Linked DNA regions of Homo sapiens: region 2 is linked to region 1. Evidence: fine-mapped expression QTL. A gene starts in region 1. The other region holds a variant in brackets. All regions are shown on one strand. Distances are between the middles of the regions.

Region 1 (5,363 bases):
ACTGCACTCCAGCCTGGGTGACAGAGCGAGGCTCCATCTCAGGAAAAAAAAAAAAAAAAAAAAAAAAAACCATCATCCTCCAGTGCGGAGAATCTTATTCATTCGTTCTGTGCCACTCGCCAACCAAGAGCCCCTAGTCTGATGTGGGAGGCATCCTCTCAAAACAGGGTCCCGAGGCAAATGCTTGTTAAACATGCAGCTGTAACCCCACCGCAGACCCTGGAGTCTGCAGTGAAGGTCCCTGGTGTGGACATTTGGGGTCACAGGCCAGAATGGCAAACCCACCTTCCCAGGAGCTAGGTGCAAGCCAGACATTTATCGACCAGGTGGGAAGAGCCACCCAGGCAGAGAGCTCAGCCCCAGCAAAGGCTGGAGCCACGTGGTCTCTTCCTGAGTCCTGAGCTGCAAGAGGCTGGAGCCTGGGAACCGGGAAGTCCCCCCAGTCCCTCTCTGAGGCTGGGATCCCCCTGCAGCCTCCTACATACCCCTGTGACGGGCTCAGTCCCTGGACGTTCGGCCCTCGACCACCATGACTGTTTGTGGCTGGTCCTGAGCTGAGACGTCTGCCCTGCTTCTGGCCTGAGGTCTCACCTTTGCAGGGAAGGCAGTGGACAAGGCCCAAGAAGCCGAGGAGGTTGATCTTGTTCCCCGGGTGGGTGAGGTTGGACCAGGCGGTGTCAATGTTGCCGGAGGCACAGCACTCGGCCCGGGTGACATCAGTCTGGAGCACCAGGCTGCAGGTGGCCTCCTGGCCCTGCTGGAGCCAGCAAACACCACCTGCGGGCCGGGGAACGGGGTGCTCTCCTGGGCCACTCCTGACACCCAGCTTCTGGCCCGCCCACAGATGCATGCAGGTGGTGCTGAGTAGTTACGCACGGAATGATCTACCCCCACCCAGGAAGAAGGGGCAGAAAACCACATGGGTGTCCCCACCCTGGCTCCAGAACCCTGGAAATGTCTCCTCCCCTCTGAGCTCCACGTGCCCCCCCCCACAGCCTCACCACCAACCCCCACCCACCCCAGGAGGTCCCTTCCCGTACCCTCCAAGCCCCCAGGCCAGGGGCTGGCACCCTGCCCAACCCCTCAAACACCACCAAACACCAGGCACTGGGCATGTCAGGGTCAGCAGGCCCTGGAGCCGCTTCTCCCGCCTCTGCCCTCTGTCTAGACAGCACCCGAGGGCGAGGGCACGCGGAGCCCCGCGCCTGGCAGCCCCCCCACCGCCTGGCCCGCCTCTTACTCACTCCAACTTGGGAACATTCCCCTTGCATGAGCTCACTGTCTCCCCAGGGACGTGGCCTTCGGGGAGGGGGCTCTGCTCTCCCTTTGGCGCAGGGCTGGGGTGGGGTGGGGCTGCAGGGATGGGGGGTGGGGAGCCAGAGAGCCCCCCATTTCTTCCCCCGTCCCTGGGGGCAGGAACGGCCACAGCCCCCATCCCAGAGCGCTTGCTGGTTCACAGACACTGCCAGGGACCAGCTTGTGGAACGCAGCACCTTGGCACCCATCATAGGAGGGGAAACTGAGGCCAGGAGTGGGGCCGTCTCCTGCCTGGCACCTCCCGGCAAGTCCCAGGTGTGAGACTCCATGCCCCGTCTACCCAGGACCCGGGAAAGCTCTCAGCCCCAGCTGGAGGGCCTGGCTCCCGACACCCAGCACTACCTCTCGGCACCAGGACCGACCCGGACGGTCGCGGCTAGAACCCTGGCTTTGCCTGCTACAGGCTGTGTGACCCTGAGCCTCAGTTTCCCCATCTGGAAGACGGAGATGAAGAGAGCTCCGGCACTATCGGGATGGCACAGGTTCAGGGAGGGGAGAGGTAGACACTAAGCGCTCAATAAATGTCAGCGGTCATTGTGATTAGAAACCTCTGCTCTGCTGACCTCTTGGTGACCCTCCTTCAGACCTTCCCGGCTCCAGCTTGCGCCGGACACCGCCCTCGCCCCCGCCGCCGCCGCCGCGCCCCCCGACGTCCCCCCGGCCGCATTCCGCGCAGCCCCACGTGGGTGGCCCGCCCCGCCCGCCCCTCTGGCCGCCCCACTCACCGGGCGCGGGGTTCCCCGAGCCCATGGAGCTCACGAAGCCCACGGCCCAAGCCAGGGCCCCCCAGGGCAGAGGCCAGAGTGGCCCTGGCGCCCCGGGACGCATGGCGAACGCAGAGACGGCAGCGGCACCGACTTCCCAGCGCGCGGCCGGCGCTCCCTATAAAGGTCCCGCGGGCCGCGGGCGGGGCGGGGCGCGGGGCGGGGCGCGGCGCGGGAGTGGCGGGGGCGAGGCCGTGTCCCGCGCGGGGTGGGCAGGCGCCGGGCCCGGCCGCTGCGGGGGGCAGTTGGGGGCGAGCGCCCGGGTCCCCTTCCGGAGCCAGAGAATGCATTTGGGGAGATGTGGCTGGACCCAGGGCGGAACCGGGACAGGGGTGTGGGTTCGAGGTGGTGGCAGCCTTTTGGGTGGATCGAGGGGCCGTCTCCAGGAATTAAAGTGGGTTTGGGGGTCTTCAGTTTCAGGGGTGGCGGTGAGGTAACGGGGACCCAAGAGGAGCACGTCTGTGGATCCCTGCATCCCGTTTCTGTGATTTGCATGTGGTCACTTTCATGGTCCAAGTGTGGTCTGAGCCCCCCAACCCGGCCTCCTTGTTCCCGACCCGCCCCACACACCCAAAACCTCAGCTGGATATGGTTCCCTGCTCACAGCGCGGGCCGCGCACCCGTCCACCTGGCCGCTGGAGCCGGCCTGTGGGTGGGGAGTGGTTGGGTGTGGGACAGAACGGGGTGCGGCCGGGACAGACCCAGAGACACAGCTCCTTCCAGCATCTCGGACAACAGCAGGCCTCGCCCAGCCACGGCCCCCAGGGAGGCCACTGCGTGTGTGTGTGTGTGTGTGTGTGTGTGTGCGCGCGCACGCCTGGCCTTTGTCCTGGGCCCCTGGGCAGCTCTGCCCCATCAGCCCTCCAAGCCTTTGCAGACATTCCCCCAGATCACCTCAACAAGAATGTTTACTAGGTTTTTTCCTCTCCCTCCAAGATTCAGCAAACACTGTTTCCAGCAGAGGCGTTTCCAACAATGTATGACAGCGACATCTGCGTGGGCCTGGAGGCGCTGCGCCCGAGGGGGCTTTCGTGCAGCCAGACACATTTCCTACTCTGGAGCTGATTCTGTCATGGGGGCCTCCAGATTTGTCAGGCGCCCTTGGCGAGCGCAGGGGAGCCCCTCTGTTCCTGCTTCTAGGGCATCAGTGAACATCTCTTTTGGCCAGAGGGACCCTGCGGGGTGCTGGGGTGCCACGGTGACCAAGGCAGACCCCATCACACCCTCACCGAGCTCCTGGTTTGGACAACAAAATGCAGAGACAAATTAATCTATAACTTCAAGGAGTGGTAAATGCTTTCAGGAAAATACAGAAGGTTGAGGTGGTGGAGAGCGGTTGGGTGTCTGCTGGGCATGCCTGTGTCTGGCCACTCGCTGTGCCGGCATTGCCCACCCCGCAGGTGGAAACGGACGTGTCCAGCAGCCCCACGGCACAGCCCCTTCTCTGGCCTGAGTGAGATCTGTGCCCACAGAAGACACACCTGTACCCTTTCCTCCACCTTAGCTGCCCAGCCTGTGTCCCCCAGCAGCCAGTGGCCAGGGGCCAAGTTCTGCCTTAGTGGCACTGAGGGGGGACACCCCGCCGTCTTGACCTGGCCTTGGCCTCTGGCATTTCCCCCGGGAATCTCCCCGGCTTGGGGAGCAGGGCAGGGACGGGACCCTGTATTCTCACTGAGGGGGGACACCCCGCCGTCTCGACCTGGCCTTGGCCTCTGGCATTTCCCCCGGGAATCTCCCCGGCTTGGGGAGCAGGGCAGGGACGGGACCCTGTGTTCTCACTGAGGGGGGACACCCCGCCGTCTCGACCTGGCCTTGGCCTCTGGCATTTCCCCCGGGAATCTCCCCGGCTTGGGGAGTGGGGCAGGCACAGGACCCTGTGTTCTCACTGACGGGGGACACCCCGCCGTCTCGACCTGGCCTTGGCCTCTGGCATTCCCCCGGGACTCTCCCGGGATTGGGGAGTGGGGCAGGGATGGGACCCTGTGTTCTCACTGAGGATGTGCGGGGGCTGGACAGTGTGACCTTGGCCAAGACCTGACCCCGCCGTGGCTTGGCCACTCCGGCCTGGGCTGTGCGAATCAAAGGGTCATTGTCTGGCTGGCGTGGGTTCCGGCCCTCTCCGGGGAAACCGAGGCCAGCTGCCAGTGGCCTCCTGCTCCCGGCTCTGTCTTCCCTAACCCAGAGGCTCTGTGCAGGGTGACCTCTAACAGGTCACTGACCCTTTCCAGAGCGCCGCCTCCTCCTGAGACCCCAGTGATGACCTCCCCTCTCCCGGCTCTGCCCCTCTCCCCACCCTATCCAGGCCCGAGGCTCATCCTAGGACTTCCAGCCCGCAGCCTGGCCCCTGCGGCCCACTTCCTACCCCAGCTGCCATAACACTTCTCCCTGGCTCAGACACCCACCGTGGCTCCTCGTGGCCTCTGCTCACCCCCCAGGCTTCTGTCTCCCTCCAGGTACATCCTGACAGGTAAACAGACAGTGACAATCCAGTGTTGTTCTGTGGCGGAGGATGCCCAGATGGCAAAGGTGCCCCAGGCCTGACCCGGGCCTGGGGGAGACTGAGGAAGGCTTCCCAGAGGAAAGAGACGTTGAGGTTGAGACTCGAACGTCAGACGGAGCGGCAGGGGTGTGCGCTGGAAACAGACGCTTGTGCTGTGAGTGAGGGGGAGAGCAGTGGGGGGTGGTCAGCAGAACGGCGGTCCCAGAGACCATGGGGCCCTCATCCCTAGAACCCGTGGGTGTCCCACCCTCCCTGGCCAAAGGGGCTCTGCAGATGGGACTGAGTTGAGGGCTTTCACACAGGGGTTCATCCTGGGTTATACGGATGGCCCACTGTCCTGGAAGGGTCCGTAGAAGAGGAGATGCCTGGCCGGGCGCGGTGGTTCACACCTGTGAACCACCAACACATTAGGTTCACACCTGTGAACCTCCAACACATTAGGAGGCCGAGGCAGGCAGATCACTTGAGGTCAGGAGTTCGAGACTAGCCTGGCCAACATGGTAAAACCCTGTCTCTACTAAAAATACAAAAAAATTAGGTGGGCCTGGTGGTGTGCGCCTGTAATCCCAGCACTTTGGGAGGCCGAGGCAGGAGGATCACTTGAAGTCAGGAGTTCGAGACTAGCCTGGCCAACATGGTAAAACCCCGTCTCTACTAAAAATACAAAAAAATTAGGTGGGCCTGGTATTGTGCACCTGTAATCCCAGCTACTTGGGAGGCTGAGGCAGGAGAATCACTTGAACCTGGGAGGCAGAGGTTGAAGTGACCCGAGATCGTGCCAC
Region 2 (5,363 bases), 24 kb before region 1:
TTTCCTGTCTTCTACCCTCTTCTCTGACTGTGATGGCTTCCATGGGAAGGACGGGGCAGGATCCAGCTTACGGATGGGCAAACAGGCGCTTTACAAGGGGCGCCAGGGCCCCAGTCCCCACCAGCATGCCGCATCCAGTACCTTGCTGTTTTTTTTTTTTTCCAACGGAGTCTCGTTCTTGTCACCCAGGCTGGAGTGCAGTGGCGCGATCTCAGCTCACTGCAACCTGCATCTCCTGGGTTCAAACAGTTCTCCTGCCTCAGCCTTCCGGGTAGCTGGAATTACAGGTGCCCGCCACCACCCCCAGCTAATTTTTGCATTTTTAGTAGAGACGGGGTTTCACCATGTTGGCCAGGCTGGTCTCGAACTCCTGACCCCAGGTGACCCGCCTGCCTCAACTTCCCAAAGTCCTGGGATTACAGGCGTGAGCCACTGTGCCCAGCCAACCTTGCTGAATTCTCATCAGCACTCTCGGCATTGCCCCAGGGCAACCCATTCCCTAGATGGGAAAACTGAGGCCAGAGAGCTCCGGGGAGCAGGGCCTTTGGACAGCTCAGGGACCCCCAGTAGCGGCCAAGCCAGCCCTCTCCAGTCTGGCTGGAAGGCAGGTAGTGTTGGGTTGTGCTATGTGTATTCTTTTTTTTTTTTTTTTTTTTTTTGAGATGGAGTCTCACTCTGTCGCCCAGGCTGGAGTGCAACGGTGCAATCTTGGCTCACTGTAACCTCCTCCTCCCAGGTTCAAGTGATCCTCCTGCCTCAGCCTCCCGAGTAGCTGGGATTACAGGCACACACCACCGCACCCAGCTAAGTTTTGTATTTTTAGTAGAGATGGGGTTTTGCCATGTTAGCCAGGCTGGTCTGGAACTCTTGACCTCAGGGGATCCGCCTGCCTCAGTCTCCCAAAGTGCTGGGATTACAGGCGCAAGCCACTGCGTCCAGCCAGTGCAATGTGTATTCTTAAGGCAGCTATCTTCCATTTCAAGAAATAGGAAGCAGGTCCGGGCACGGGGACTCACGCCTGTAATCCTAACATTCTGGGAGGCTGAGGCGGGTGGATCCTCTGAGGTCAGGAGTTCGAGAGCAGCCTGGCTAACAGGGCAAAACCTGTCTCTGCTAAAAATACAAAAAAAGATCAGGCGCGTTGGCAACGCCTGTAATCCTAGCACTTTGAGAGGCCAAGGCAGGCAGATCACCTGAGGTTGGGAGTTCAAGACCAGCCTGACCAACATGGCGAAACCCCATCTCTACTAAAAATACAAAATTAGCTGGGGGTGGTGGTGGGCGCCTGTAATTCCAGCCACTCAGGAGGCTGAGGCAGGAGAATCGCTTGAACCCGAGAGGCAGAGTTTGCAGTGAGCTGAGATCATACCACTGCACTCCAGCCTGGGCAACAAGAGCGAAACTCCATCTCAAAAAAAAAAAAAAAATTAGCTGGGCGTGGTGGCGCATGCCTGTAATCCCAGCTACCTGGGAGACTGAGGTAGGAGAATCTCTTGAACTCAGGAGGAAAAGGTTGCTGAGAGCCAAGATCGCGCCACTGCTCTCCAGCGTGGGTGACAGAGCGAGACTCCCTCTCAACAACAACAACAAAAAAAAAAAAAAAAAAGAAGAAGCAATGTCCTGTGGATATACATTTATTGGGGTTAAAAAATAAAGTGAGGCTGGGCACAGAAGCTCATGCCTGTAATCCCAGCACTTTGGGAGGCCGAGGCAGGTAGATCACAAGGTCAGGAGATCGAGACGATCCTGGCTAACACAGTGAAATCCTGTCCGTACTAAAAATACAAAACAAATTAGCCAGGTGTGGTGGCACACACCTGTAGTCCCACCTACTTGGGAGGCTGAGGTAGGAGAATCGCTTCAACCTGGGAGGCAGAGGTTGCAGTAAGCAGAGATCACACCACTGTACTCCAGCCTGGGTGACAAAGCATCTGTCTCAAAAAAATAAAAATAAAGTGAGGCCAGGCTCAGTGGCTCATGCCTATTACACCAGCACTTTGGGAAGCCAAGGTGGGAGGATCAGTCGAGGTCAGTTTGAGGCCAGCCTGGGCGGCATAGTGAGACCCCATCTCTACAAAAAAACTTTTTTTTTTTTTCTTGAGACGGAGTCTCACTCTGTCGCCCAGGCTGGAGTGCAGTGGCGCGATCTCGGCTCACTGCAAGCTCCGCCTCCCGGGTTCTCGCCATTCTCCTGCCTCAGCCTCCCGAGTAGCTGGGACTACAGACGCCCGCCACCGTGCCCGGCTAATTTTTTGTATTTTTAGTAGAGATGGGGTTTCACCGTGTTAGCCAGGATGGTCTCGATCTCCTGACCTCGTGATCCATCCGCCTCAGCCTCCCAAAGTGCTGGGATGACAGGCGTGAGCCACCGTGTCTAGCTTTTTTTTTTTTTTTAATTACCCTGGTGGTTTTGTGAGCCTGTGGTCCCAGCTACAGGGAAGGCGGAGCCAGGAGGCAGAGGCTGCAGTGAGCTGTGATTGCAGTCTCAGCCACCAGGCAACATCTCGTCTTGAAAAACAATTTTTCGCAGGGGAGGGGCCGGGCGCGGTGGCTCACGCCTGTCATCCCATCACTTTGGGAGGCCCAGGCGGGTGGATCACCTGCCATCAGAAGTTCAAGACCAGCCTGGCCAACATGGTGAAACCCCATCTCTACTAAAAATACAAAAAATTAGCTGGGCGTGGTGGTGGGCGCCTGTAATCCCAGCTACTCGGGAGGCTGAGACAGGAGAATCACTTGAACCCGGGAGGCAGAGCTTGCAGTGAGCTGAGATGGTGCCACTGCACTGCAGCCTGGGTGACAGAGCGAGACTCCGTCTCAAAAAAACAAAATAAATAAAATAAAAATGTAAAATTAAATACAATAAAGGAAGCTGTTGTCACCATTGCTGTTGACTCCCTGCAGTGGCTGGTGTCTGAGCTCCTGAAGAGCCGCTCAGATCTGCCATGGAGAGACCCTCCAGGAGAATCGCAGTCCAGCGGCTCATGGGTCAAGACCCTGTGCTGTGTGGCCCCAGACAAATCGGCTCCCCTCTCTGGGCCTCAGTTTGGGAAGT[G/T]GGAACAGTGACCCCCACTCAGCCCCCTCCTCAGGGCTGCCAGGAGCTCGGTTTTCTGAGACGCTGGAGGACGGTTGTTTATTTCACAACTGTTCACCAAAAGGGAAGGAAATGGCCCAGCTCTGGATAGAATCGGTCCCGAGAGGCAGTGGGAGCTCCTCTGAGGCAGCAGCCCCGGCCCCCTGGCTCCTCACTGTGTGGCAGGGCTAAGGCGCTTACCCTCTCCCTACTGTGTCCCCATCAGCGACCGGGACAGGGACAGCATCGTGAGGGAACAAAGTTCCACACGCCTGCAGCTTCGGGCAATTCTCCTTCTAACGCCCGTGGAGCTGGGGACGTTTTCCAGGTCTCTGCCTCAGTGCTCCGCGACGGAGGGCAGCAGGGGAGGTAGGAGCAAGTCCAGGGGACCCACTCGTGCTGACGCGACGACCGTGGAGACCAGAGTGCCTGCTGTCCAGTCGTTTGACAATATTGACGGACAGCCGGGTGCGATGGCTCACGCCTGTAATCCCAGCACTTTGGGAGGCCGAGGCAGGCCGATCACTTGAGCTCAGGAGTTTGAGACCAGCCTGGGCAATATGGCAAAACCCATCTCTACCAAACAAATAAAACAAAACAAAACAAAAAAACACAAAAATTAGCCGGGCGTGGTGGCAGGCACCTGTAATCCCACCTACTTGGGAGGCTAAGGCAGTAGGATCGCTTGAACTCAGGAGGCAGAGGATGCAGTGAGCCGAGATCAAACCACTGCACTCCAGCCTGGGCGACAGAAGGAGACCCTGTCTCTAAAAGATAAAAACAGGGCCGGGCGCAGTGGCTCATGCCTGTAATCCCAGCATTTTCGGAGGCCAAGGCGGGCGGATCACGAGGTCAGGAGTTCAAGACCAGCCTGGCCAACATGGTGAAACCCCATCTCCACTAAAAATACAAAAAATTGGCCGGGCGTGGGGGCAGACGCCTGTAGTCCCAGCTACTGGGGAGGCTGAGGCAGGAGAATCGCTTGAACCCGGGACACTGAGGTTGCAGTGAGCTGAGATCACGCCACTGCACTCCAGCCTGGCGACAGATCGAGACTCCATCTAAAAAAAAAAAAAAAAACACCCACACACAAAAAAACAATATTGATGGAGCACGGCCCATGCGGTCACAGCGATGCCAGACGGTCCAGTAGACCACAGCAGAGCAGGAAATGGTCCCCAAGTACACGGACCCTGAGCTGGGGTCCCACCTGTCCCCAGGCCCTGGAAACAGCTTTCCATTTCCCAAAATCTTTCCTGCAGCTGCTGTAACGAATTCCCAGAAACGTAGTGGTTTAAAATGATACCAACTTGGGCCAGACATGGTGGCTCACACCTGTAATCCCAGCACTCCGGGAAGCCGAGGCTGGAGGATTGCTCGAGGCCAGGAGTTCAAGACCAGCCTGGGCAACATGGCAAAACCCCGTCTCCACAAAAAATGAAATAATGAGCCGGGCCTGGTGGTGGCAGGTGCCTGTGGTCCCAGCTACTTGGGAGGCTGAGGTGGGAGGATGGCTTGAGCCTAGGAGGTCGAGGCTGCAGTGAGCTTTGATTGCACTGCTGCACTCCAGCGTGGGCGGCAGAGCAAGACCCTGTCTCCCTGTCTCAAAATAAATATATACATAATAAATGAGGCTGGGCGCGGTGGCTCACACCTGTAATCCCAGCACTTTGAAAGGCTGAGGCAGGCAGATCACGAGGTCAGGAGATTGAGACCATCCTGGCTAACGTGGTGAAACCCCATCTCTACTAAAAATACAAAATATCAGCCGGGCGTGGTGGCGGGCACCTGTAGTCCCAGCTACTTGGGAGGCTGAGGAAGGAGAATGGCATGAACCCAGGAGGCGGAGCTTGCAGTGAGCCGAGATCGCACCACTGCAGTCTGGCCTAGGCGAAAGAGCGAGACTCCATCTCAAGAAAATATAATAATAATAATAATAAACGAAATGGCACCAATTTATTCTCTGGCAGTGCTGGAGGTCAGAAGCCCCTGCAGGCCCTTCTGGGCTAACGTCAGGGCATCGGTAGGGCTGGCTTTTCCCGGAGGCTCCAGGAGAAAATTCGTTTCCTGCCGTTTTTTAGCTTCCAGAGGCCGCCCGCATCTCGCAGAGCCCGAGTTCGTTGTGGGGCCTTTTCATACCTTCCTTTCCACGCATTTCCTGTTGCTTCATTTCACTTCATTCTTTATTGAGAACACTTTACATTTGGTAAAACACAGGTCTGGAGCGTTCAATGATGACTTTTTTTTTTTTTTTTTTTTTGAGATGGTGTCTCGCTCTGTCACCCAGGCT

The links. PIP is the estimated chance that this variant, and not a neighbour inherited with it, causes the effect. A credible set is the group of variants that fine-mapping cannot tell apart.
Region 2: its variant is the best candidate, but not a certain one, in a credible set for the expression of FSTL3 in whole blood (TOPMed, PIP 0.61).

Annotation. Positions count from the first base shown.
Region 1 is chr19:673,206-678,568 of GRCh38, reverse strand. It overlaps FSTL3 (follistatin like 3), which reads right to left and starts at 2,177. Exons shown (of 5, transcript NM_005860.3): 1 at 2,043-2,177; 2 at 592-777. The coding sequence starts at 2,145.
Region 2 is chr19:697,225-702,587 of GRCh38, reverse strand. No RefSeq gene overlaps it. Among named protein-coding and RNA genes, the nearest start is that of PRSS57, 4.5 kb to the right of the region's middle. The variant G/T (reference allele first, on the strand shown) is at 3,056.